Linked DNA regions of Homo sapiens: regions 1, 3, 4, 5 and 6 are each linked to region 2. Evidence: fine-mapped expression QTL. A gene starts in region 2. Each other region holds a variant in brackets. All regions are shown on one strand. Distances are from middle to middle. Region 1 overlaps FAM149A (family with sequence similarity 149 member A). Region 2 holds the start of FAM149A (family with sequence similarity 149 member A). Region 3 overlaps CYP4V2 (cytochrome P450 family 4 subfamily V member 2). Region 4 has its middle 13 kb from the start of FLJ38576. Region 5 overlaps FAM149A (family with sequence similarity 149 member A). Region 6 overlaps FAM149A (family with sequence similarity 149 member A).

Region 1 (4,090 bases), 46 kb before region 2:
AGAAAAGCTTGCCTTCATACCCAATCCATATTCTCCATCTTTGATATGAAAAGTAACACATGCTCCTCCCTACATAAGGAATGGGTGAGATGGGAAGACCCATCTATCCAGCCGTTCAGCAAATCATCTCTGCCCACCCTCGCTGTGTTCTGTGATGAAGACAGACATGTGCTGCTCACACACAGTGAATGTGAAGGTAAGAGGTGGCCTCCACCATTCTTGCATTCGTATATGTGTCATGCCCTTCTCAGGATGGCCTGAATTTGCTTCTCACAAATTAAAAGGCGCTTGAGTACTGGAATGTCTCAGTATTTCCTCAGACGCCGTAAGAGGAAAGTGATCTCTCAGTGAAGGACTGCGCTCTGCATCCATATTCTGACTGGGCAGGCACTTTCACACCAAATGTACTGAATGTATCGAGGCAGGTCAGGGGTGGGTGCTTGGAAAACCCACCCCAGAGAACTTCCACCACCAAGGTCCCACCTCAAATGGAGGGATCTTCTTGTCCACTCCCCGCATTCGGCCAGCAGACTCTGGGTCTGAGGGTTCACTTTCCCTTCAAATAACATTTCCTCCACCTCCCAGAGTAACCGCTGCACTGACTGTGAACTGGCTTCGTCAAATTCCTAAACAGAAATGCACACTTGGTTACAACACTGCAAGTTACAGAACTGCGGGCTTCTGGATCAACGCTACTTATACATTTACTGTCACCCACTATGTAGGAGGGTGCATCACTTGGTAAAAAGATGGTGGCTTTGCAGTCAGACACACCTGTGCTCTAGCTGTTACCTTTCTGAGAAATGCCATCTCATTCTGAGCCTCGGATTCTTTTACTGTTAAATAGAGAAAACTTCTGCCACGGAAGTTATGAGACTCAAGAATTTGCATAGATAGAGGTATAGATGGACGTGTTCATACTGCCACAGACATCAGCGTAGACACACAGACACGTCCACATCTGTATGTCTGCAAACACAGGCAGCTCCTCACAGAGCTGTGCCTGACACACCTAAGCACACCTGCAAAATACAAGATTTTTTTTTCTTCTGGTGATACCACAGAAAAGAAAATTACTTTTGTAGAAAAGGCCATTAATCTCCTTAAATCAATGAACTGGAAAAAAAAATCCTTAGTTATCCTAAGAAGTGTGGTTATTAGGGTGAGGCCTGAGTATTAATGGAAGTTATACGAATTTCCCTGGTAATTCCATTAAACGTTGTACTAAAAGAATCCTAGAATTTGGACAGAGTAAAGCAGTGGTGCTCAGCCTTCTACCAAGGAAGGCGGGCTTGAGGGATGGTGGTGAGTGGGCGTAAGGGAGAGGAAGGAGGCAGCTGCCCCTAAGTAAGGGAGCTGCGTGCGTGAAAGGTCCTCCTAGCAGTGCTGAGCTGAGTCCCTTTCAGACCCCCTCGGTGCACCTGCCCTGCCGGCTCCCCTGAGAATCACAGCTGCACAGCTGCGGACAGAAGCGGATTCCCATGTGCAGTGGGAGTGGGGAACCACTTTTAAAGAAAGCAAAGAGGCTGGGCGCAGTGGCTCATGCCATGGGAGGCCCAGGCAGGCGGATCACAACGTCAGGAGTTCGAAACCAGCCTGGCCAACATGGTGAAACACCGTCTCTACTAAAAATACAAAAATTAACTGGGCATGGCGGTGCACACTTGTAATCCCAGCTACTCGGGAGGCTGAGACAGGAGTATTGCTTGAACCTGGTAGGCGGAGGTTGCAGTGAGCCGACATGGCACCACTGCACCTCAGCTTGAGTGACAGAGCAAGACTCTGTCTTAAAAAAAAAAAAGAGAGAAAAGGCCGGACGCGGTGGCTCACGCCTGTAATCCCAGCACTTTGGGAGGCCGAGACGGGCGGATCACGAGGTCAGGAGATCGAGACCATCCTGGCTAACACGGTGAAACCCCGTCTCTATTAAAAATACAAAAAATTAGCCGGGCGTGGTGGTGGGCGCCTGTGGTCCCAGCTACTCGGGAGGCTGAGGCAGGAGAATGGCGTGAACCCGGGAGGCGGAGCTTGCAGTGAGCCGAGATCGCGCCCCTGCACTCCAGCCTGGGCGACAGAGCGAGACTCCGTCTCAAAAAAAAAAAAAAAAAAAAAAAAGAGACAGAGAGAGAGAGAAAGCAAGCAAGCAAAAAACAACAACAACAACAACAAAACACCCAGCATAAACGAGGTAAAACAGAACACCCAAGGTGCTGCAGCCAGGTGGGCCTTAAAAAGGAGGGCTGTGTCCTGGGATCCACGGAGACCCTTGGAGGGAGGGGGAGGGAGGAGACTGGAGCCAGTGAGCTCCTGAGCAAGCTGGAGCAGTGGAGGCAGAGCTCGCCCAGCCAGAATCCCAGGCTCACACAGACAAAAGCAGTTCAGAGGCAACAGC[G/C]CCCCCAGCGGTAGGGGGTGAAGGTGAAATATCCGACTGGGAATACTGGCGGGGAGTTCTCTAATCACAGTGGCTGCCACAGCTTTTACTTTTCCAGCATTTCTTTCTTATTCAAGTCCTGAATTTCCGGCCATGGATACCATCCAAGAAGTCACAAGGAGCACACACCCGGAGAGCCGGCTGCAGGGTGGAAACAAGAAAACTGCGGGCAGCTAAGACGGGGCCAGAAGGTCACGAGGGAGTTCTGTTTTCCTCCACGGTTCGTGATCTATTATTTTCACATGTAACATGTACATGCTTTTACATGTATGTACATGTATGTATGCAATAGGTCATGCTTTTATAATTGGTAAAAATAATTTTGAATATAAGGAAGCAACTCTTCACTATAAACTGTAATTACAAGATTATCCAAAATATTCTGAGACATACGTCATCTCTCCAGGAATAAACGGAGCCCCTCTCCGTGGATGAGCCGGTGGTAGAGCTCTGTGTGGCCGACCCAGACCAAGAGGTGTGGGCTCCCGTGGGTGTATGGCTTCCGCTGGAGGAAAAGGATGACAAGGATTTGCTGCAGGAATGAACATGAGCAAAGAAATCACATTTGCTGGAAGGGCTTGGATGGCTAAGTGGCTTCACTTTTCTGAGCCTGCTTCCTCTTTCTTTCATTAAATATATTTATTAATTTCACAGTATACTAATTTTGAAATATTTTTACAGTGTGATGTTTACACTAGGTTAAAAATAAAACTGCATCTTACTTTTAGAAATTCATGGCCAGTCACTAACTTCCTTCCCACATTTGTTACGGGCATTTTGTGATTTTGTAATCTGAAGCAAGGTGAATTCTTACCAGGTATATTTATCAATGGCTTTCTGCACATTTCTTGTAAAATGCGTAGGTAAAGAATCTTTGCTCCTCACAGTAAAACCGTGCCTTCTACGTCCTTCTGACAGTCCTCTTCTGGAAATAAAATAAAACATGACGAGTCTCCCTAATGTAATAATATAGTTTTATTCATTAAGACTTTTAAAATTTCTCTTTTATACAAAGTTGCTCCTCTCGTTCTGCCACATCCCTCCAAACCCACCTGTGCATGAGCGCACACACACACACACACACACACACACACACACCCCATCCTGATGAAACTGAGACTTAGGATGTCATCATTTTTCTTTTTCTTAAAATCAAGGTTGCCATTAACCTATATGTACCTTTATGTGAACTGAAGACAACATCAACTTTTTGTGACTCAGCCAGAGAAGGAAAAGTTGCCCCAAACAGTTCACAGTATTTCAGGGATTTCAGGTCCCAGTTGTCCCTTGACCAGGGACAAGGGACTTACTTACAAAACCCAACCACTCCTCCAGTAAAAAAATCATTAATCCCATATTAATTAAGAAACATCAAATTCTTTAGACTCAGAAGCCACACAGACACCTAACTTGCTTTAATCTAGCATTGCTGTTTGTGGGTATACTGAGTTTTCAAGAGTTAGAAGATATTAAAATTTAATGAAGAACTAAAACAGAAGAAATATCTAGATGTTAAATAAACTATTAAGCCTAACTGGTGTAGCACAGTTCCTGTTAATCATTGAAATGTCCTTTCAATGAACCGCTTAAAACATTTACTTCCTCTAGTCAAAATATCTTCCTGATGTTTAATAATCAACAACTTCTGTTCTTCAATAG
Region 2 (4,077 bases):
TCATCCTCTTGCCTCAGCCTTCCGAGTAGCTGGGACTACAGGCACGTACCACCACGCCCGGCTAATTTTTTGTATTTTTAGTAGAGACGGGGTTTCATCGTGTTAGCCAGGATGGTCTCGATCTCCTGACCTCATGATCCGCCCGCCTCGGCCTCCCAAAGTGCTGGGATTACAGGCGTGAGCCACCGTGCCCGGCCGCTTGTTTTCATATTGACATGAATATCATTCAATTTTGTGAAACTGTAATTATTTAAATTGTGAGTGAGTCAGGATCAGTATGAATGCAAAAATTACTCAGGATTTTTTGGAGGGAGTAGGGAATGGCCTCACTAGATTACAATGCAGAAACCTCAGTCTGTGAATTGGCTCATCTGTCTTTGACCATTTCACTATTTCTTTGCAGCATTCAGGATGAAAATTTACCCACTCAAGAATAGCTAACGATATGCTCCACTCTAAAAATTAAAATTCATCCTAGTTCTAAAACACATTTTAAAAGAGCAATGTTTTTATCACGACTCTTGGAAGTGAAAGGGGTGTTGTGTGGGTGTGTGTGTGTTGAGGGAATCGGCCTCCGATTCCCAGTGAAAATGTTCCCATGAAGTCAACGTTTCTGCAGTGACTCAGGGCACTGTGGAAAGCTCTCAGGAGCTCTAGGGTAATAATCAGACGTGTCCTGGCCATTACAACTCCATTTGTGTCAGATGATGTCATGCATATGTAAATTAACTAGATGTCACACAAAGGAGACCCATCCCACTTAGGATAAGACTAGGGACTGGTCCTTAGACATTAGGAAAGCACCAGGTCTCACCACTTCTTAAAACACTTGCTGCAGACGTGTGTATTCGGTTTCCCTGCACACCTGCTATATTCTGAGACAAAGAAAGGGACTTCAAAAAGTCCTTAAGAAAACCAAACAAACACTCTAAGTAGCAATGCTTCTGGTAGAAGAGAAACAAAATTCTGTCCCTTCCTTCAAGGCCCCTTAGGATTCACTCTGAGAAAGCTGGACAAAGCATGTCACAGCTTATGTCTGAAAGCCCGCAAAGCCAAGGAGTAAAAACCCAGGAAACGTGCAAGGAGGGTGCCCAGGGGGTTATGAAAGTTACTACAAATATTTCATTTCCTGAAGTGCACCTGCGAAGGTGAGTGCGGCAGGCGGAGGGGTCGGGGGTCCCGGCAAAAGGTACACGCGCCCGGACCACGCTGCTACTCACGCTTCGCCATCCCCGGAGTCGCCGTCCGAGGCCCCCTCCTCGCCGATGTCAGGCAGCGTAAGGAACAGGGTTCTGGGGCCAGCCCCGGGGGCCACGCAGGCGCCGAGCTCTCGCTCTCCGGGGCCAGGCTGGAGCGGGTTCCTGGGGAGCGCGGCCCAGACCCCGCCGGGGCCCGAGGGCGGCCGCGCTGGGACCACCAGGCGAGCAGGGGAGCAGCCCCCGCCGGAGGGAGTGGGGGGCTGGGGCGGGGCTTTACCCGCTCTAGGGCTACTGGGCCAAGAGAGCAGGGTCCCCACTGCTCCCGCGGCGCGGCTGGCGGCGGAGCCCCGGGAGTAGGGGGAGGAGAGCAGCGGGGCGGGCGACCGCCGCGAGGCGGAGGGGGAGTCCGGAGCCAGGGCGCGGAGGAGGGTCGGGGCGGTACCCAACGGGGTGCCCGCCCTGGAGCCCCCCGACCCTGCAGCGGCAGCACCTCCCGAGGGTCTGGAGGAGGGGCCTGCGGGGGGCGCCGTCGAGGTCTCGAAGAGTTTGGCCAAGAGAGACCCAAGGTCCAGCACAGCAGCCTTCATGCCTCGACAGTGGACACGCCGTCCTCGCCGCCGCCCGAGAGTTCAGACCGCGGAGATCCGGCCGAGGCGGCCCGGGCCGGGGCGAGGAGCCTGAGGTCCCCGCACCCGGAGCCCCGGAGGCCCCTGGCTCCCTCTCCTCCCCGAGGACGCTCAGCTCCGCGCCGCTGGGGTCGCCCTTCCCCGGCCCGGGTCCGTCCGCCGAGCGCCCCGGCTGCGGAGAGCAGCCCCGCCTCGTCCCAGCGCCGTGAGACCCCCGAGGGCCGAAGGGCCAGGAGCCCCGGGAAGCGCGGCCGCCGCCCGCCCCAGACGCCCGCCGCCCGCCGCCCGCCGCCCGCGGTTGCTACGTTCAACACACCCGGCCGCGCTCCAGGCTAATTGGGCCCCAGGTGCGGCTCGGGCTGTGCCCGCGGGGGACGTCCCACTCCCCGCCTGGTTCCGCCTTAAAGGAACACGCCCCCATTTCCCCTGCGCCCCGAGCCTCGCAGATCCCATCCGCCGAGCTCAGGGCCCAGGGCTGGGAAAGAGAATCCTGGCTCCAGAAGGTTCTGGAACTTACCCAGCCTGACAAGCTTGCACGTGCTGGGGTCAGGCCACCTCTCTGACGATAGGGAAGGTGGGTAGAAAGATGTATTTGGGCGAACGAGCTTGAAACAGCAGCATCCACTCCCCCACCCCAGGGTCCTACTCAAACCCTGTTACTAAGGGTGGGGTGGGAGCAACCGCGAGGTGCGCCACCCACTAACCTGCAAACAAGACCGGCTCTGAGAGCTGAAGTAGAAAGACCTACGCACACCTGTTTAAACACCTGTCGGAGTGAACCAAGAGACTGTGTAATTCAAATGTTTGAGAACTCAAATTATAATCGGAACGACTACAAATTCAAAGACAGATATGGAAGGCAACGTTTTCTATTCAGTGGAATAAATTGTATTTTGCTTAATCTGAAAAATATGTGTGAAAGGTAGAGCGTATAGGTGCGAGCATCTAAAGGGGTGTGGGGTCAGTGTTGAACAGAGTTAAAAAATAAGATACTGCAGCCAGGCTCGGTGGCTCATACCTGTAATCCCAGCACCGGGATTGGGAGGTGGGAGGATGGCTTGAGCCCAGGAGTTCCAGGCCAGCCTGGGCAACAACATAGGGAGACCCCATCTCTACAAATATTTAAAAAAAAAAAAAATGCCGGGCCTGGTGGCGCATGCCTGTAGTCCCAGGTACTCGGGAGGCTGAGGTGATCGCTTGGGCCTGGAGTGAGCCGTGATCGCACCACTGCATTCCAGCCTGGGCAGTAGAGTGAGACCCTGTGTCAAAAAAATAGTAATGAGATATTGATGGAGTTTGTCCATTAATATTCAGGAGAGGATCTCAGGAGATACATTTCCTGATGTGGGGTAGGGAAAAGAGATGAATTAAGTCTGGCAGTGAATAAACTGACATTCATGCTTATATACTTGAATCTTTTGTAAGTTATCAAACTGGAGTCTGAGCCACGGTAAACTTCCAGGTAATGCTAAGTTTTGCGTTATTTGGAGGCAGTTAACAAGTCTTCTGTCATGATCCCTTTTCTACATCTAACTGCCACCAACATGTACTGGGCACTTGTCTGCTTCAAGATTGCATTAAGCACAGACATGCAAAGAAAGAGCGGTTCTCTTCCCAGAGCATGGAATAATCTGCTTCACGTCATATGCTGAGTGTCCCGTGAGTGCCCTGGAAGACAAGCACAGGTGATGGCAGCCATCGTGGTCAACATTCGCTTGGGGACAGCAGAGCATTTGTGTGCCTAAGGGAAGTAAGAGACATGGGTGACTAGGGTGAGATTTTAAAGGCCCTTGGATGTTCGGAGAGGCGAGAGCACGCAGTCGTCAGCGTGTGAAGCACCAGCACACAGCGAAGAATCAAAATGAGAGAAAAAGGGAATTAAGAACAGACACCTCTGAGAGCAGCAATGGTAACAAGAGGGAGAGGGTTGGGGGCAAACCAGGGAAGCAGTGCCAACTCCGTCACAACGCAGAGACACCAGGAACAGGCTGCTGTTGAACCATGAACTTTTCTCGTGCTCCCTTGTTCCCCTTCTGCAGCACTCACCAGGTAGCCTCAGAAGTCTGGACGTTCCCTCCGAACACTGGACTGTTTTCATGTAGCACTCATTCAGGACTGCAAAGCAGTTTCCCACAGATTTTGTTCATCTTACAAGGATCTTATTCTGATTCATGGAGTAATTAAATCCTTAATATATCAGGTCACTTTCAATGCAAATAGAAGTTATTTCTAGAGTATGTGCTTTCAGTGAG
Region 3 (4,090 bases), 100 kb before region 2:
CTTCTCACTGTAAAACTGCATCAGATACCACTTGTTGCTTGGCTAACTCAACTTTATTCCTTTTCACCTTGCAGCTATTGGGGGCCATATGACACGTGATTTTTAACAAGGATAAAATCTATGGAAGCCTCTTTGTGGCAGACTGATAATGGGCCCCAAAATATCAGGTCTTAATCCCTGCAATCTGTAAATGTTACCCTATTTGGAAGAAGAGAACTCTTGGCAGATTTGATTAAATTAAAGATCTTACAGTGGGTAGATTATCCAGGTGAGCCCTGAACGCCATCACAAGTATGTCACAAGTATGCTTGTGAAAGACACACAAGCACACACATGCACACACACACACACCACACATGCATGCACGTGCGTGCACACACTCACACCCAGAGAAAAGAGAAGGCGATGCAGAGACTGGCAGAGATAGCAGTGATGCGGCTGTCAGCCAAGAAATGCTGGCAGCCACCGGAAGCTGAAGAGACAAGGAGTGGATATTTTCCCAGTGGGCCACAGCCCTGCCCACATGGTGATGTGGGCTCAATGACACTGATCTTTGACTCGGGTGTCCAGAACTGTGAGGGAACAGACGTCGCTGCTGTGAACCTCCCTGTCTGTGGATTTGTCACAGCAGCAGCCACAGGACACCAACACACCCGGTACCCCCACCTCCCCTGTCTTCCTGCCTTGAAGATGAACGTGATGCTTGGAACGTCAATCATGAGGACAAAAGCCAAGATGGTAGGGATGGCTGGGAGCAAAAGGGCAAGTCTGGGACCCTGGACATCCTACTGGCAGGACTTTTCCTCCGGGCTGCTTGCTGTGTAATAGAAATGTATCTCCTCGAAGCTTAATCCACCTTTTTAATCCACATTTTCTCTCCTTTGTGGTGAGAGGCAATCTGCGAAACAGCTTTCCTGTACCTTTCTAAATAGTTTCACCAGCTCCTCCTTTCTCCCAAATAGCACCTTCTTCACTCAAATGCACGACCCATGACTCAAAGCCTCTGTTTCGCCTGGGTAGCAGTGAGACCCTTGAGGACAGCAGCACGCATCAGTGCACCCCAGCATCCGGCCTAGTACAGTCACTTGCCAGGCGACTGGCAGAGGCCTGTGAGTGAATGGACGAGGCCTTGCAAAGGGGATGGTACTGGAAAGGATCCCGTGGGGGAGCCTTCCTGCTCATTACACTGTGTTTACAACACAGTGACATCTCTGCAGCAGACTTAGTACCACAATATAACCAGTGAAGGGGCCAAACATACCAAACACGTCATCCAATTCATGATCCACTTTTTTCTGGACTTCTGGGTTAGAACCCAACAGGTATAAGGACCAGTTTATTGCAGCTGCAGTTGTATCGTGCCCCTACAAATGCAGAAAACAATAGCTTAAAAAGCAGAGTTATGCTGCGATGATTAGGAGTGACCAGAAACCTCTTTTGAATTGTCTCTGGATTTGATGACTGCACTGTGACTGCAAACATAAGAAATGAATTCTGTGCAGCACCTTGCCTCGGTGACAAACAAGGAAACAAGCCTGCAAAGCGGAGGTTCATGCCTAGAGATGGCAGTTCCACGCCGCACGGTGTTGCACGCTGGTGGGACGTGCCTGTGCTGTGTTAATAAAGGCGGCGTTCCATGGGCACGAGGTGAGCTGCGCCTTTGTGAACAGAACAAAGTCTGATTTTCACGAGCCTGCTTGTCAGGGCTGTACTTCTCTGCCTTCCCCCATCTGTCAGGTGGGCCTCACCTGTTGATGACGGGCACCAGGGGGTAGAGGTGTGGTTCTAAGTCATATCCTCTGCAGTAAAAATTGACAACAACCTCATTTCATACTTGCTGAGTTTTAGGCAAAATACTAAGCACTTTGCAGAAACTGAATTAATCTGCACAAAAACTCCATGAAAGACTCATTACTGTTCTTTACAATTCAGAGATTAAAAACTGAGGCCAAAGATGTGGTTAAATAACTTCTTCTGTGCTAAACAGCTTAGTGGGAAACAGAGGCAGAAACTGAGCCTGCGGCGTGTCCGATGACAAAGCCAGCTGAGCCCACGCCATTCCCTCCACACCCTGTGCAGTAAGGACGCTCCACCTCCACCTCTTACGCCAGCGTAACGTCTCCACCTCCACCTCTTACGCCAGCGAAACGTCTCCACCGCCACCTCTTACGCCAGCGTAGCGCCTCCACCGCC[G/A]CCTCTTACGCCAGCGTAGCGCCTCCACCGCCGCCTCTTACGCCAGCGTAGCGTCTCCACCGCCGCCTCTTACGCCAGCGTAGCGTCTCCACCGCCGCGTCTTACGCCAGCGTAGCGTCTCCACCGCCACCTCTTACGCCAGCGTAACGTCTCCACCTCCACCTCTTAGCGGTAGCGTAACGTCTCCGCCTCCACCTCTTAAGCTAGTGTAATGTCTCGGGCAACCTTCTTTCCCACCCATTTGATATTTCAGGACCTGGCTTCTTATCTACCTCCTCATCTCCCTAGCACATTTCCATATGCAAAAGTGGTGAGTTCTTCAGAAAAAAAAAAAATGTATCTGGAAAGTCAATAACAGTAATCTACCTCTCTGAAACTTTGAGGACAAAAAGAAAAAACAAATTATTTCCTCTATAAAAGATCTCACTTTTCCATTTTTCCTATGTGGCACAAGTGATTTTTGTAATATTTCATTCTCTGTGCAGAAATCTTCAAAGTACTTGTTTTATAAAACAGCTCCTAAAATGAATTGCTCGGGGCTTATTCTGCAATTCTTAAAAGACACAGCCTACAGGTCCTGAGGTCGGCGCCTCTGCATTTTCCTAGCACTTGCAGTTACAAAACCTACTCGGAACTCCAGATGAGCTCCGGCCCGTTGTGCTCAGTTGTCTAAGTACGGAAGGAAGTATTCTGGCTAAACAATTTTAATAGCTTTCCTTGAATTTATGAGCGGAAGCCTGATCCAAATGCATAAGAGGAGTCTGCTGAACTTCCGATTTCATTTCATCTGCCAACTGCAGAAAGCATGATAAGGCAAACGTAAAGCACCGAGGCACACTGGTGGAGCAGGGGAGGACGCCCACTTTTAGCTCACAGCTGGAACCTGGGCAGTTGCAGCCTGCACCAGCCTGTGGAGGAGGCCACAGTATCACACTCACAGCCTGCACCGGCCTGTGGAGGAGGCCACAGTGTCACTCACAGCCTGCACCGACCTGTGGAGGAGGCCACAGTATCACACTCACACCTGGTATGCTGCCTCCCTTTCAATGCAAAGAAGAAAACAATTAGAATGTCAAGGAATGTTAGAGTTGGAAGAAAAATCATTAGTCTGGTTCTGATTGTTTACGTGAGATTGAGAGGTTCCTGGTAGGAGATGGATGTGTGTGTGCACATGTGTGTACATATGTGTATGGGGTTGTGCACATATATGAATGTGTGTACGTGGATATGTACATGTATTTGTGTGTGCCTTTGTGCTTATGTACACGAGTGTACATAGCTGTGTGCATTTATGTGTGCATGTGTGTATATATGTGCATCTATGTATGTGTATATGCGCATGTGTGTATGTAGGTGTGTACATGTGTTTTTGTATGATTGCATAAATGTACATGAATGTGTGCCTCTGTGGGGGGTGGTGTGTGCATGTATGTGTATGCATGCATGTGTGCATGTGGGTATATGTGTGCATGCATGTGTATGCATGCATGTGTGCATGTGGGTATATGTGTGCATGTGTGTGTATGTGCATGAGTATCTGGGTGTGTGTGTATATTTGTGTGTGAGTGTATGCACGTGTGTGCGCATGTGGATATACATATGTTTGTGTGTGCATGTATGTGCATGAGTGTATGTAGGTGTGTGCATGTGTTTGTGTATGTGTGTATATGTGAATGTGTGTATGTTGGTATATACATGTGTCTGTGCATGTGTATGTGCATGAGCATATGTGTGTGTGTAAGTGTGTGCATGTGTGTGCATGGGTTTACATGAGTGTATGCGTGTGTGTGTGTAGTACATGGGCAAGGTGAAGATGTGAGATCTCTCTACTCCGACATGCAATAATAACACCCGGTATGTGCCGCATACTTATGGGCCAATCACGATTCTCAGAGCA
Region 4 (4,090 bases), 73 kb before region 2:
ATGTTTTCTGTGAAAAACCAAATTGTTTCTTTCTTCCTAAATCTTAAGACCCTTTAATAATTTAATCTTGCCCTGCTGGGGTGGAAAATATATTCTGTATCATGAATAACAGTGGCGGTAGCTGACACTTCGTATTATCTGATCTCAGGAAGTATAGCTTCTTCAGTAAGTAAAATCAGAATAAAATTACCACTAAGTATGCAGTTTGCAGTTGTTTTTTTCCCCTAGATACTCATGAAGAGATAACAGTGATATTCTTATCTTCCTGGTTGACTAAGAATTTTTATAAAGACATTTTCTTCATCTTTCGAGAAGATCCCATGCTTGTTTCCTTACATCATTTGTTGCACTGAATGATTTTCACATGGTACATCAAACTTGCATTTCTGAAATAAATTTAATTTGGATGGTACGTATTATCTATTTCATATATTACTGATTTGATTTTGCTTGGGAGTTCAGGGATGATATTGGCCTATAATTCGCTTTTTTTTTTTTTTTTATAATTCTCAGTTACTTTATTGTAATTTACTTTTTTTTTTTGTAATGTCCTTGTTAGGTTTTGTATCAGGGTTGTGGTAGCCTTACAAAATGACAATCATCTTGAATAACTTTTTTGTTAGTTTTTTAGAGAGACAAAGTCTCACTCTGTTACCCAGGCTGGAGTGCAGTGGCGTGATCATAACTCACTGTAACCTCGAGCCTCTGGGCTCAAGCAATCCTCCTGCTTCAGCCTCCCAAAGTGCTGGGATTATAGGCATGAGCCACTATGCCCAGGCCTGAAGAGCTTTTTGATATTGCTACTAGTGGTATTAGTTTTTCCTTAAATATTTGGAAGGATTAACCAATGAAGTCAGCAGGACTTGGAGTTGTCTTTGTGAGAAGGCTTTTAATAATACATTTAAGTCTTATAATAGACATAACCCTTTTCAAATTTTCTATTTCTTCTTGAGTGATGTGATTTTTTCAAAGTTTTAATTTTCATCTAAATTACCAAATCAAGTTATTCATAGTATAATGCTTATCTTTTTTCACATCTATAGAATCAGCAGTGGTATGCCTATTTTCATTCCTGATAGTATTTTGTGCCTTCATCTCGCTATATCACACGCACTGCTTTATAAAACTCTACCTTAGAACAGTAATCCTGGACAATGATGAATCTATAACACTTTAACAGCAAATAAACCCTTCCCAATTTTAAGCTATTTCTATAATATTTTAATCCCAAATATATACTGAATTCTGTATTACTCATTATTTTATACAGTAAGTATTCTTTTCTATTTTCCCACGTATGTATACATTCTGATCTTTATTACTTCTTCTTTTATCATTGTACTTCCTTCTGGGATAATTTTCCTACTCTGTGAAGAGCTCTCGTTTGTATTTCCTTTAGTACAGATTTGCCGGTGATAAATTCCCAATTTTGGTTTATCTGAAAATACTGCTCTTTTGCCCTCATTTTTGAGGTATATGTTTACTACGTATAAAATTCTGGGTTGGCAATTATTTTTTTCAGCACTTTAAAGATGCTTTTTATATTGTCTTTCAGCTTCCATCACTTGTGTTGAAAAGTCAAATATTAGTCTTATTGTTGCTTCTTTGAAGATAATGAGTCTTT[C/T]CCCCCTCCCTCTGACTGCTGTTTGGTTCTTTTTGATTTGGGGTTTCTAGCAGTTTGTGATGGACCTGAGTATGTTTTGCTTTCTATCTTGTGTTTCTTATAGCTTCTTAAATGACTGCATCGATGTCTTCTATCTATTTTTGGAAGATTCTTTCATGGTATCTGTTCAATACTGCATTGTTCTATTCTCTTTCTCCTCTATGACTATCATTACACGGATATGAGATTTTTTCACATGGCCTCACAATTTTTAAGGAATATCTATTTTTTATGCTTGTTCAAAGTGAATACTGTGTATTGACCTGCCTTCCAGTTTACTAAGCCTCTTGTCTGCTATGTGTAATCTGCAGTTCAACACAGCTAGTGAATTATTGAGTCATTGTATTATTCATTTCTAGGATATCAGTTTGATTATTTTTCAGATTACAGTTCTCTCTTGAAATTGTTTTTCAATATATTTTTGAATGTGCAAATCAAATTGTTTCTTAGCTTGTACCTGATAGTGCTACTATTTTAATCACGTGTGGGTCCATTATAATTTTGTTTTCTCTCTTGGCTTTCAGTCACTTGGCCCTATATCCTGGGCTGTCTCTTAATTTTAGATTGAATGCTGTACATTGTATATAAAAATAATAGAAATTCTAGGTGATGCTATATTTCTTTAAAGAGGATACTTTTTCTGGTGGTCATATAAAGTACAGGCATATAACCTGGATCTAAACAGAGGTTTCATTGATTCTAGGTTCTGCTTCTAGTGTTTTGAGGACTTGTCTGTATTAAGCTTGCCCTTACTCCTAGAGTGTAGTCCTTCAAGATTATCAATTCAAAGTCTGAGACATTTCCCAACATCATTCCTTTTGGCAGCCTAGTGAGCTTGTCACAAATTTTGAGGGTATCCCTTTTTCTTGGCCTCTATGCCCCATTACTAATCTAAAATATATTGATACAGGGAAAGAAAACAGTAGCAAATATGGGGTTCATCTCAATGTATTATTCCTGTTGTCTCCCAATTTGTTTCCTGAAGTTGTGCTGCTTTGTCTTGGGGGGCTGGGTGGGTGTGGATGTGGGTGTCCACGCGTGCCTCCAAAGAGCTGTTTCTTGTCCATTTATAGCTTTTATAGTTGTTCTCAGTAGGTCAGTTTGCTCATGAACTATTCTTTCATAAACAGTAGTGGAATGCCTCCATGTTTATTTTTAACATCATTTTGATTCTGTATATTTTTGAAATCTTTTGCCTTCTAAGCTAAAACTTTCACCCCCACAATGTTCTTTTTGTGAACTCTGAAGACATCCTTCACAAGGTGTAGCCTTCTCTGAATGTTGCTTCTGAGTTATAACTTACTATTCACTCAGCTCTGTCAGCTTTTTCTTTAATTTTCCAGTGGGAATACACTCTGCATGTCCTCCAGAGAACACTAGAGCTATCTTCCTTTTTGGATCAACATTTTTATACTGAATAATGACATTCATCAAGATGAACCTTACTAGGAAACACACGTGCATGCACACACACACACACACACACACACACACACACATACTCTACTCCCCTGTACAGAAAAATTCCCTGGAAGACTTGCCCATGACTACTGTCTTGGATTTCTCTCTTCTTCTTTTCTCCCAAACCCACTGCAAGCCTACTTTCGCCTTGTCCATTCACCTAGCAGATCTTGTCAAGGCCACCAGTAACTTCCATGTGGCTAGACCTTTAGTCTGATTCTCAGACCTCATCGTAATTGACTCATCAACAGCATTCAACATACTTGAGTCCCTATCACTTCCTTGAAACACTTCCCCCGCACAAACACACACATACTTTGAGGACGCCACATTCTCCTGACTCTTATTTCCCTTCACCAGCCATTCTTTCTCAGTCTGCTTTGCTGGTTTTCCTTCACATCCCAGGCCTTTAGATGTTAAAAGGCACAAGGCTCAGTACTTCTTTTTCCTCCATTTCTCTACACTCATTTTCTTGGTTGCCTCATCCATTTCAGTTCTTAAATACCATCTACGTGCTGACAATCCCCAAATTTATACATCCAGTCTATACCTCACCTCCACACCCAAGTGTGGATATCCAAATATCTCAATATCTCCACTTAGGCATCTAATTGGCATCTCACACATAACTTGCCCCTCATGCTGCCAAACGTGTTCCCCTTGCAGTCTTTCCAATTTCAGTGAGTGTCAACACCATCCTTCCAAGTGTGAAGCCAAAAGCCTGGAGGCATTCTCGATTCTTTTGGTAGACACACTCCACCTCTCATCCAACAGCACATCTTTTGGCTCAAATTTCAAAACACATGCAAAGTCCTGGGATTCTCATCAGCCTTACCACTATCATCTGACTGAAACAGGATCATCTCTTGTCGATTATATCATTCTATCCCCAAAACTCAACTGCTCCAGTGGCTTCTTATTTCATATTTCCCATAGTCCAAAAGGGACCTCAGTCCCTCAGCTCCT
Region 5 (4,090 bases), 40 kb before region 2:
ATCTTTTAAGCTAAGCACCTGAAATAACACTCGTCACACAAAAGATGCCCTCGGTTGAAAGACTCAAACGGCGAAGACGAAATTAGCAACTCAAATGCGGAACTCATTTTCACTACAGAATTACTCTGAATGTTTATGCCTGAAACATAGGATTACATCGTGACCTGACATGAAAATATTCCCCAGATTCAAGACACTATTGGATAACGTTTTACTCGTTAAAAAGTCACAGCTCTTCTTTGGGCAGCTGATATTCCCCCAAATGGTTTTCACCGCCAAACGGAGCATCTGCTCTGCTCAAGACGGTCTATCCTGCTTCTAGCTCCTCCTCCTGCTTTTGTGCAACTTTGAAGCCAAATTCAAAATGGGACGCATGCGAGTTTGTTTCAATGAATAATTTATTCCTCTAGGAAATTCACTCTTTTTCAGGGGAAAGGGTGGAAGCTCTTTTCAAATTAAGGAGAAAATTATTTACAAAACGGAGGAACTCATCTCTCTTCACATCACACCACATCCTTTCCAGGACCAGGCTTCCCACTGTCTTGGACGCAGAGCTGAGCCCAGGAGGTCTTGGGATGCAGGGCAGGGGGAAATGGGAAGTTGGGTAACAGTCACACCAATTATTACGAATTAGGTGCCTTAAAACTCCCCTACTCCATGCCATTTCTCCCTCTTTTTTCCTCTCTGACCTTCCCCTCTGTATCTCCTTTTAAGCAATTTCTTGAGCTTCAGAGTTCAGTGTAATAACATACAAACTTGACCACACAATTCACAAAAAAACGAGGTGAACAGGAATTTAAGTCCGTAACTCAATGATTGCCCAAGAGCACAAAGAAGATAGGGACAGAGTTTCTTCGAGGAACCAGGCCACTGACCTGCCTGTCTCTCCAGTGGCACAAGTTACTAACATCATGAATTAACAGCAGAGCCTACAAAATCCCTTTCTTGTCTTTTTCTTTTTTTTTTTCTCTTTCACATCTTGTTTTGGTTCTTTGGTTTCTCTGTTCTCTAACCAAGGATTGGTTACTGGTCCCTCATGCATAATGTTGAACCTCTTTAATCCCCTATAAACTATGGACTAGTTCTGTATCCTACACAGTCTAAGAAAGTGTACACAACTTACAGGATGCATCCCACAGGTATTTTAAAACTTGAATATGGTGGCATGTCCATGAAGCTTCTAAACATAGACATGCAAGTTCTATACTAGTTCCTGTCCATACTGTTTAAATAGAGCAAGGCTGTTGATTTGGGGACAGGTCTTCGTAGGGTGGACTGAAGTGCAGTCACTAAACTAGACTGCACTCATTTGTTGGCGCATGGAGGTTAAGGGTGAGTTCCAATCTCCATGACTCCATTCCAGCTGTCAGGAAAATCATCATCCAGAGTTACTGTTTTAGGTTGCTTCTTGACAGCCCACAAACCTCTGCCACACTGCTTTGTAGAAATTCTAATGTCAGTGACAGCAGCTTTCAAAATTTTCTATTCCTAGTTGACAGGACTGTCTGACATAAGCACTGTACTCTGAACGGGTTAAAATGCAGGCTGGTTTTCTGGATGGGGGGACACACAGGGGCACTCCAGGGTGGCCATGGGAAGCCGCTCCTCAGCACGGAACACTCACACCGCCCTGACCCAACACCAGCAAGTCCCAGGAGCGACCGCAGTGACGAAGGAGTCCCTTTGGCGGCGAACGCTTCCCCGCGTGAGCCATGCCCGGGGCCGGCCTGACGCTTCCCGAGTGCCTGCAGGGAAGCCCGGGCCAGACGCAGCCGGCCCGCGGGCGGAGAACACCGCGCACATCGCCTGCAGAGCGGCCAGAAGGCGAGCCCTGCTGCCGGATGAGACTCACCCGATTACGATCAGCCCCGGGCCTGTGCTCGCAGCCCCCGCGCCAGGCTCCGCGCTAGGCTCGGGCAC[C/G]GTCAGGCAGAGGCACCGCGCGCGGGCCCCACGCAGACAGCCGGTCACGCGCCCCCGCGGCCCCGGGGCTGGGGCTCCCCACCCGCCCGCGCCCGCGCCCGCGCCCGCGCCCGCGCCCGCCGCGCGGCTGGCCCAGCTCAGGCGGCCCGGGCGCGCCCGGGGTCCGCGGGGCTCGCACGCCCCTTCCCTCTCCAGATCCTCCGCCCCGCCCGCGCCGGCGCCGCCTCCCCTCCTCCTCCCTGCGCTGCGCCCTCGCCCGCCAGCTAATCCCGGCTGCGCCCGCCCATCCCCGCTCCGGGCCCCGGCCCCGGCCCCGGCCCCGCGCCGACCTCCGGGAAAGCGCGCCTTCCCCGCTCCCTGCCGGGCCGGGTTTCCAACCCAGCGGCCACTCCTCCGCGCACGGCCCGGCCTCCCTACTCCTTCCCGGGTCTCTGGGGCCGGGGGCTGTGCATACTGGTGCTGGCTGCCCTTCTCTCTTCCAAATCGGATTTTAATTCACCAGAAGAAGGCAGAGAACCACAGGACCATCTCGCCTATCCCCGCCCCATCAAAGGGTGCGCACACCAGGCTGGGGTGGGGAGTGGACGAATGAGGTTTAAAAAATGAAGCCCCGGATCTGGTCAATGCGAGAACCATTACTCCATCAACAGGAACGCTAGATCTAAGCATGCATACTAAAGACGTGGACCCTTCCACGCCCGTCCTGCCCTACCGGCTCACACAAGCCGGTGCATCTCCTGCACACCCCGAGCATGCCTGCCGCTTGCGTTACCATGTGCTCGTTTCAGTTTTGGAGGCCCAGGATTATACCAGGAGCAGAGCAGCTGGACGCTCTCCTGTGAGCTGGTGAAACTGCCAAGCCGTCATTTTCACATGCTAAGGGAAGAAGGGGTGAGGTCGCGGAGGTGAACTACATTTTTGAGTCTCAGAGGGTGGGCACTGCACGAGGCATGCCTTTCCCACGACAGGGATTTTAGTAATGACAGTTAGTGCACTGGGTGCCGGTACAACACTCATCCCCGTCCTGCCGTAGCCAGTCTCTTTTGAGAGCTGAGGCCATCTAAGTTTCAACAGGTACAATTTCTCCTGCCAAGTATCCCGTATTTACAGAGGTAAACCATGTATTTCCGAGTTTTTACTAAAAAGCCCAGTTTATTTCTGATGCACCACCCTAGCACGGTGACAAGAAATCACTACCAATAACAAAAACAGTAGTCCAGCCAGGGTGGCTCACGCCTGTAATCCCAGCACTTTGGAAGGCTGAGGTGGGCGGATCACTTGAGATCAGGAGTTCAAGACCAGCCTGGCCAACATGGTGAAACCCCAGTCTCTACTAAAAATACAAAAATTAGCTGGGTGTGGTGGTGCGTGCCTGTAATTCCAGCTACTCAGGAGGCTGAGGCATGAGAATCACTTCAACCTGGGAGGCGGAGATCGCCCCACCCACTCCAGGCTGGGCGACAGAGGGAGACTCTGTCTCAAAAAAACAAACACAAACAAAACAGTAATCCATTGTTGAACTAAGAACACTGGAATCCTCCCCACTTTTATAAAAGTGGTAAGTGGTTATAAATTATAAAATTAATGAGATTTTAAATCCTGATACATGTATATGTGTATATGTGTGATGTGTGTGTATGTGTATACATATCTATCAGGAAAACTATGGTATCTTAAGCCCACACAGACTTGCTGATATTATTTATATTGCCAGGGGTGGGAGGATGGGCATGCCAGGGAAACAAAAGAAAGGAGTCTGGTGTGATGGCTCCCACCTGTAACCGCAGTGTTTTGAGAGGCCAAGATGGGAGGATCACTAGAGCCCAGGAGTTCAAGACCAGCCTGGGCAAGACAGCAAGACTCTTGTCTCAAAAAAAAAAAAAAAAAAAAAAAAAGTAAAAATCGAACACAAAGTCATTTAAGATCCAAACATATGCTAGCTGCTTTTACTTTTATATATATTATTTTACATATATTCTTACATATATTTAACACCCATAGTAGGTAGACACTATTATTACAATTTTGTTGATAAAAATACTGATGTCAGAGACCTTAAGTAACATGTTCGAGGTCACACAGCTAGGATGTATATGTGTGAATGTGTCCCAGATATCTATTACCCCATAACAAACCACCCCAAATGTAGATTAAATCAACAGTCATGTTG
Region 6 (4,090 bases), 34 kb before region 2:
GTATAGGCTGGGCACAGTGGCTCAGCACCTTGGGACGCCAAGTCAGGAGGATCTCTTGAGCTCAGGAGTTCAGAACAAGCCTGGGCAACATAATGAGACGTTGTCTCTACAAAAAAAAAAAAAAAAAAAAAAAAGCTAGGTGTGTTCACATGGATCTGTAGTCACAGCTAATTGGGAGACTGAAGTGGGAGGATCACTTAGAGCCCCGGAGATGGAGGCTGCAGTACTCCAGCCTGGGTGACGAAGCAAGACACTGTCTCAAAAAATAAAAATAAAAAGTGGTATATGTGATTATGTGATCACCCTCTGAAAATTAATTAGTAATATAAGATATAAAGTTATTCCAAAAATTATAAGCAACTCCTCTAAAAATTGACCTGATTTCACGTGCTGGCTCTGTCTTGCCCTAGCCATGCAATCCTGAGCTGATAACTTAATGCTGTGAGCAGAAATTAGCTAAAACAAGGCTAATATTACTGTCTTCCTTGTAGAGTTGTGTGAATTAGAGACAAATTTTGGAAACTGCATATAGATACATAATAAATTGTAAATTATTCCTTTTTTCAGCATTTAAAGCATTGAGAGTGGTTTTTTTTGTTAGGTGGAGTATTAAACCAGTTCATTTTAATATTATGCAATATAATACACAAAAGTTACATACAGTTTTTTACATTTATCCAGTACGAGCAGTCCTGGCTTTACATGGGTATCATATAAACTGAAACTTGTGCATATCAGAACTGTGGCCTTGCTTTGCAAATACAAACATATACATACAACTATGTCATCTCTCTATACCATAGAGCTGTCTCCAGTAGCAATGAGCACCTCCAGTGCCTAGATCTTAGTTCCTAACACTGTCCTAGTCCATCTGGGCTGCTATGACAAAATACCATAGACTGGGTGACTTATAAACAACAGAAACGTATTAGGTGGATGCAAAAGTAACTGCAGTTTTTGCCATTACCTATCTCCCACAGGTCTGAAGGCTGGGAAGTCCAAGATCAAGGTGGTAGCAGATTCAGTGTCTGGTGCCGGCTCCATGCTTCCTAGATGGTGCCTTCCAGCTGTGTCTTCACATGGCCAAAAGGGTGAAGAAGCCCCCAGGGCCTCCTTCATAAAGGCATGAATCCCACTCACGAGGGCTTTGCAATCATGACCTAATCGCCTCCTAAAGGCCCCACCTTTAGTACCATTTCATTGGAGAGAGATTTCAACCTATGAATTTTGGGGGATACAAACATTCAGACCACACCAAATACTATTCTCCAATAGAGGGACCAGGGCTCCATGGAGGAGTGGCCGATTTGGGGGCTGAGGCAGGGCAATATAAAATGTACCTGGAGCATCTTGTACTGCCAGACTGTAGGAAAGTGCTCAAAAAACAAAAACCAAAACAACAGAAGAATGAGAGCATGTCACAGGAGCCATCCTGAAAGAGCCCCAAATGGCTAAAGCTAGAACAACCTGAGTAACAAAATACATCATGTGCTATCGGATTATAACTAAAGTACAAAATACATTTCTATGAGCCCATATTGATAGAAATAAACAAATAAATAAATAAATGGGGAGAAGAGGCACATTTCCCACAGAAGAACTCTACCCCAGTGGTGTGTGTCTCCCCTTCCAGGAGGCGGGCATCATACCTTCTTCTCCAAGAGTGCAGTATGGAAGCTTGACTCCAAGAGTGCAGTATGGAAGCAGGGGGTGACTTTACAGGGGAGCAGCCTGACAAGCACTCCCGGAGCCAGGTGGTCAAGGCTGGCACCATCCGTGATGTGTCATGTTGACACGCACCCTTGCAATGAGGCAATGAGAAAGGCACTTCCCTTCTGTGGCCTTCCCCCCCAAACCCATAACCCCAGTCTCACCATGATAAAAACACAAGGCGAACCCCAGCGGAGCGGCCTTCTACAAAACACATGACCAGTACTCCCCTAAACTGTCGTGATCATCAAAACAAGAAAGTCTGAGAAACTGTCTCGGATCAGAGGACACTGAGGAGACGTGACAACTCCATGTAATGTCAAGTGGACCCTGGAGGAGAGGAAGGGCACTGGGGAAAACTGGTGGTGACGGTTAATACAGTTTAGGGGACCCTGCGTGAAGCAGATGACCCTCCATCATGGGGGTGGACCTCATCCAATCTCTGCAATTCTCTGG[A/C]TCACTATTTGCAAATTCACCTATTTGCTAAAATATAATTGTAACCCCCAAAATAATCTGTCACCTCTGCAGGTTTTGGACTTACCAAGCCTCCACAATCACGTGAGCCTATTTTTAAAAAATCTCTCTCCCTCTTCACACATGCAAACACACACACACACACACTCACTCACTAACTCATCCTGTCTGATCTGCTTCTCTGAAAAACCCTGAATAGTACTCTGGTGAAATCAGAATAAATGTGGAGTTTAGTTAATGGTAACGGATTGATACTGGTTCATTAGTTGTGACACATGTACCAGAATAATAGGGAGCTGCTTTTCTGTAAATCTAGCTCTAAAATAAAAAGTCTGTTTTAAAAATGCTTGCATTAACCTCCTCTATACATTTAAATATATTTTACAAGTTGGTAACTTCCTTCATAGAAGACTAATAAAACAATATCATGTTTTATTATTTTAATGGGAAGAGTATAAAAATCTTGGAAAGTGCTAGGTAAACTATGAAGTCCATAGCTTATATAAAATTATAGAAAAATATAGAATATATTATTTAATATTTAAAAATTACCTAAGTGGTGAAATTTATAAGTACATTGTTTTAAATGAGTCCAGGAAATTGCAATAAATAAATATGATATTAAATGATAACAGAATTTTTCTTTTATGAGCATGTTCTAGGAATAGCCTGTGTAAACCAAGATATAGCTCTAGATTGGGATTGAAAGGCTGCATGTAATATTGAAATGGTGGCATGCAATATTGCCAGAAAGCCACCAGATGTCAACATTTCCCCTCTTTCATCACTATAAAAAAAAAAATCCTTGCCCAGATTTTAATACTTTATGGTTTCTTTTTTGCAAGATTTAGGATTTGCCGAATTTTCATTCCAGAATAGATAGGGAATCCTGTCTCAATCAGAAGTCAGCATTTCAGTGAACAGTAGGTGGTACGCACAGCCGACAGAAAGTGCGTACCATGCACATATCATACCATGCACATGATATGAATGTGCATGAGGGACAGGGTATGCTTTCGCTCTGACCAGCACTTAGAGCCAGAGACCAATGTACCTTACTCGTAAACCTCACACCACCACATGAACAAAACCTTCAGCCACCTGAAAGGTGGCTACTCTTTTATATAGAAAAAAAAAAAAGAGGGTCAGCAACATCCAGTAAATTCCCAAGGGTACACAGCTTTATCCAGATCAGTCCAGTCTAGCTTTAAAAGTTTAGCTTTCAAAGATTCATCTCAAATCCAATTTGCTGATTTCTGTTAAAGTTCCTTTCATTATTGGTCTATTTTAAACACAACAAATATGTTCTACCATAGTATCCACTAACATTTCCTGAATATGTACCACACACCAGGCCCTGCTTTAAGCACTTAGAGAGAGAGAGAGAGAGAGAGAGAGAGAGAGAGAGAGAGAGAAAGAGAGAGAGAAAGAGAGAGAGAGAGAGAGAGAGAGAGATCAATCAGTGTATTTGAGCTTCACAATCATTCTTCGAAGGGGGCACTGCTGTTAATGCCATTCTGCCAGTGAGAAAACTCGGGCACAGACAGGTGGACGGAAAGGCAGAGCCACCTTCTTAGGCTGTGGGCAGCCTGGCTTGTTGAGCACCCCACCTGCAGCCCTGCAGGGCACACTCCCACAGCTCCCTACAAATCATACAGAGACGCTAAAGCTCCTATACATGGCACAGATTATCAGGACATTTTGAAATTGCTATAAATGTTGTATCCAAAAAAGGATGAAAAATACTTAGACTTTTAATATGAAGAGTATAAAAAGCATAGAAAGTCCTAGGTAATCAATAAGGTCCACAAGCTTATAGAAAATTATAGAAAAATATAGAATTAGTACATTATTCAAAATGAAATACCTAAGTTCTGAAACCCAACTTTTTAAAGTAAGTGCTAAA

Evidence for each region.
Region 1: its variant is fine-mapped to the expression of FAM149A in blood mononuclear cells (TOPMed, PIP above 0.99).
Region 3: its variant is fine-mapped to the expression of FAM149A in whole blood (TOPMed, PIP 0.97).
Region 4: its variant is fine-mapped to the expression of FAM149A in prostate (GTEx, PIP 0.97).
Region 5: its variant is fine-mapped to the expression of FAM149A in skeletal muscle (GTEx, PIP 0.90).
Region 6: its variant is fine-mapped to the expression of FAM149A in whole blood (TOPMed, PIP above 0.99).

Annotation. Positions count from the first base shown.
Region 1 is chr4:186,148,439-186,152,528 of GRCh38, reverse strand. It overlaps FAM149A (family with sequence similarity 149 member A), which reads right to left. Exons shown (of 14, transcript NM_001395294.1): 2 at 3,246-3,356; 3 at 2,825-2,963; 4 at 484-626. Among named protein-coding and RNA genes, the nearest start is that of FLJ38576, 41 kb to the left of the region's middle. RefSeq lists a silencer at 2,396-2,591 and an enhancer at 2,610-3,809. The variant G/C (reference allele first, on the strand shown) is at 2,393.
Region 2 is chr4:186,102,786-186,106,862 of GRCh38, reverse strand. FAM149A (family with sequence similarity 149 member A) reads right to left here and starts at 2,159. Exons shown (of 14, transcript NM_001395294.1): 1 at 1,221-2,159. The coding sequence starts at 1,786. RefSeq lists a silencer at 2,180-2,239.
Region 3 is chr4:186,202,474-186,206,563 of GRCh38, reverse strand. CYP4V2 (cytochrome P450 family 4 subfamily V member 2) reads right to left here. Exons shown (of 11, transcript NM_207352.4): 8 at 1,262-1,364. Among named protein-coding and RNA genes, the nearest start is that of CYP4V2, 13 kb to the right of the region's middle. The variant G/A (reference allele first, on the strand shown) is at 2,194.
Region 4 is chr4:186,175,990-186,180,079 of GRCh38, reverse strand. No RefSeq gene overlaps it. Among named protein-coding and RNA genes, the nearest start is that of FLJ38576, 13 kb to the left of the region's middle. The variant C/T (reference allele first, on the strand shown) is at 1,625.
Region 5 is chr4:186,142,875-186,146,964 of GRCh38, reverse strand. All of the region lies in intron 1 of FAM149A (family with sequence similarity 149 member A), which reads right to left. Among named protein-coding and RNA genes, the nearest start is that of FAM149A, 40 kb to the right of the region's middle. RefSeq lists enhancers at 2,212-2,712, 2,713-3,213. The variant C/G (reference allele first, on the strand shown) is at 1,921.
Region 6 is chr4:186,136,486-186,140,575 of GRCh38, reverse strand. All of the region lies in intron 1 of FAM149A (family with sequence similarity 149 member A), which reads right to left. Among named protein-coding and RNA genes, the nearest start is that of FAM149A, 34 kb to the right of the region's middle. The variant A/C (reference allele first, on the strand shown) is at 2,167.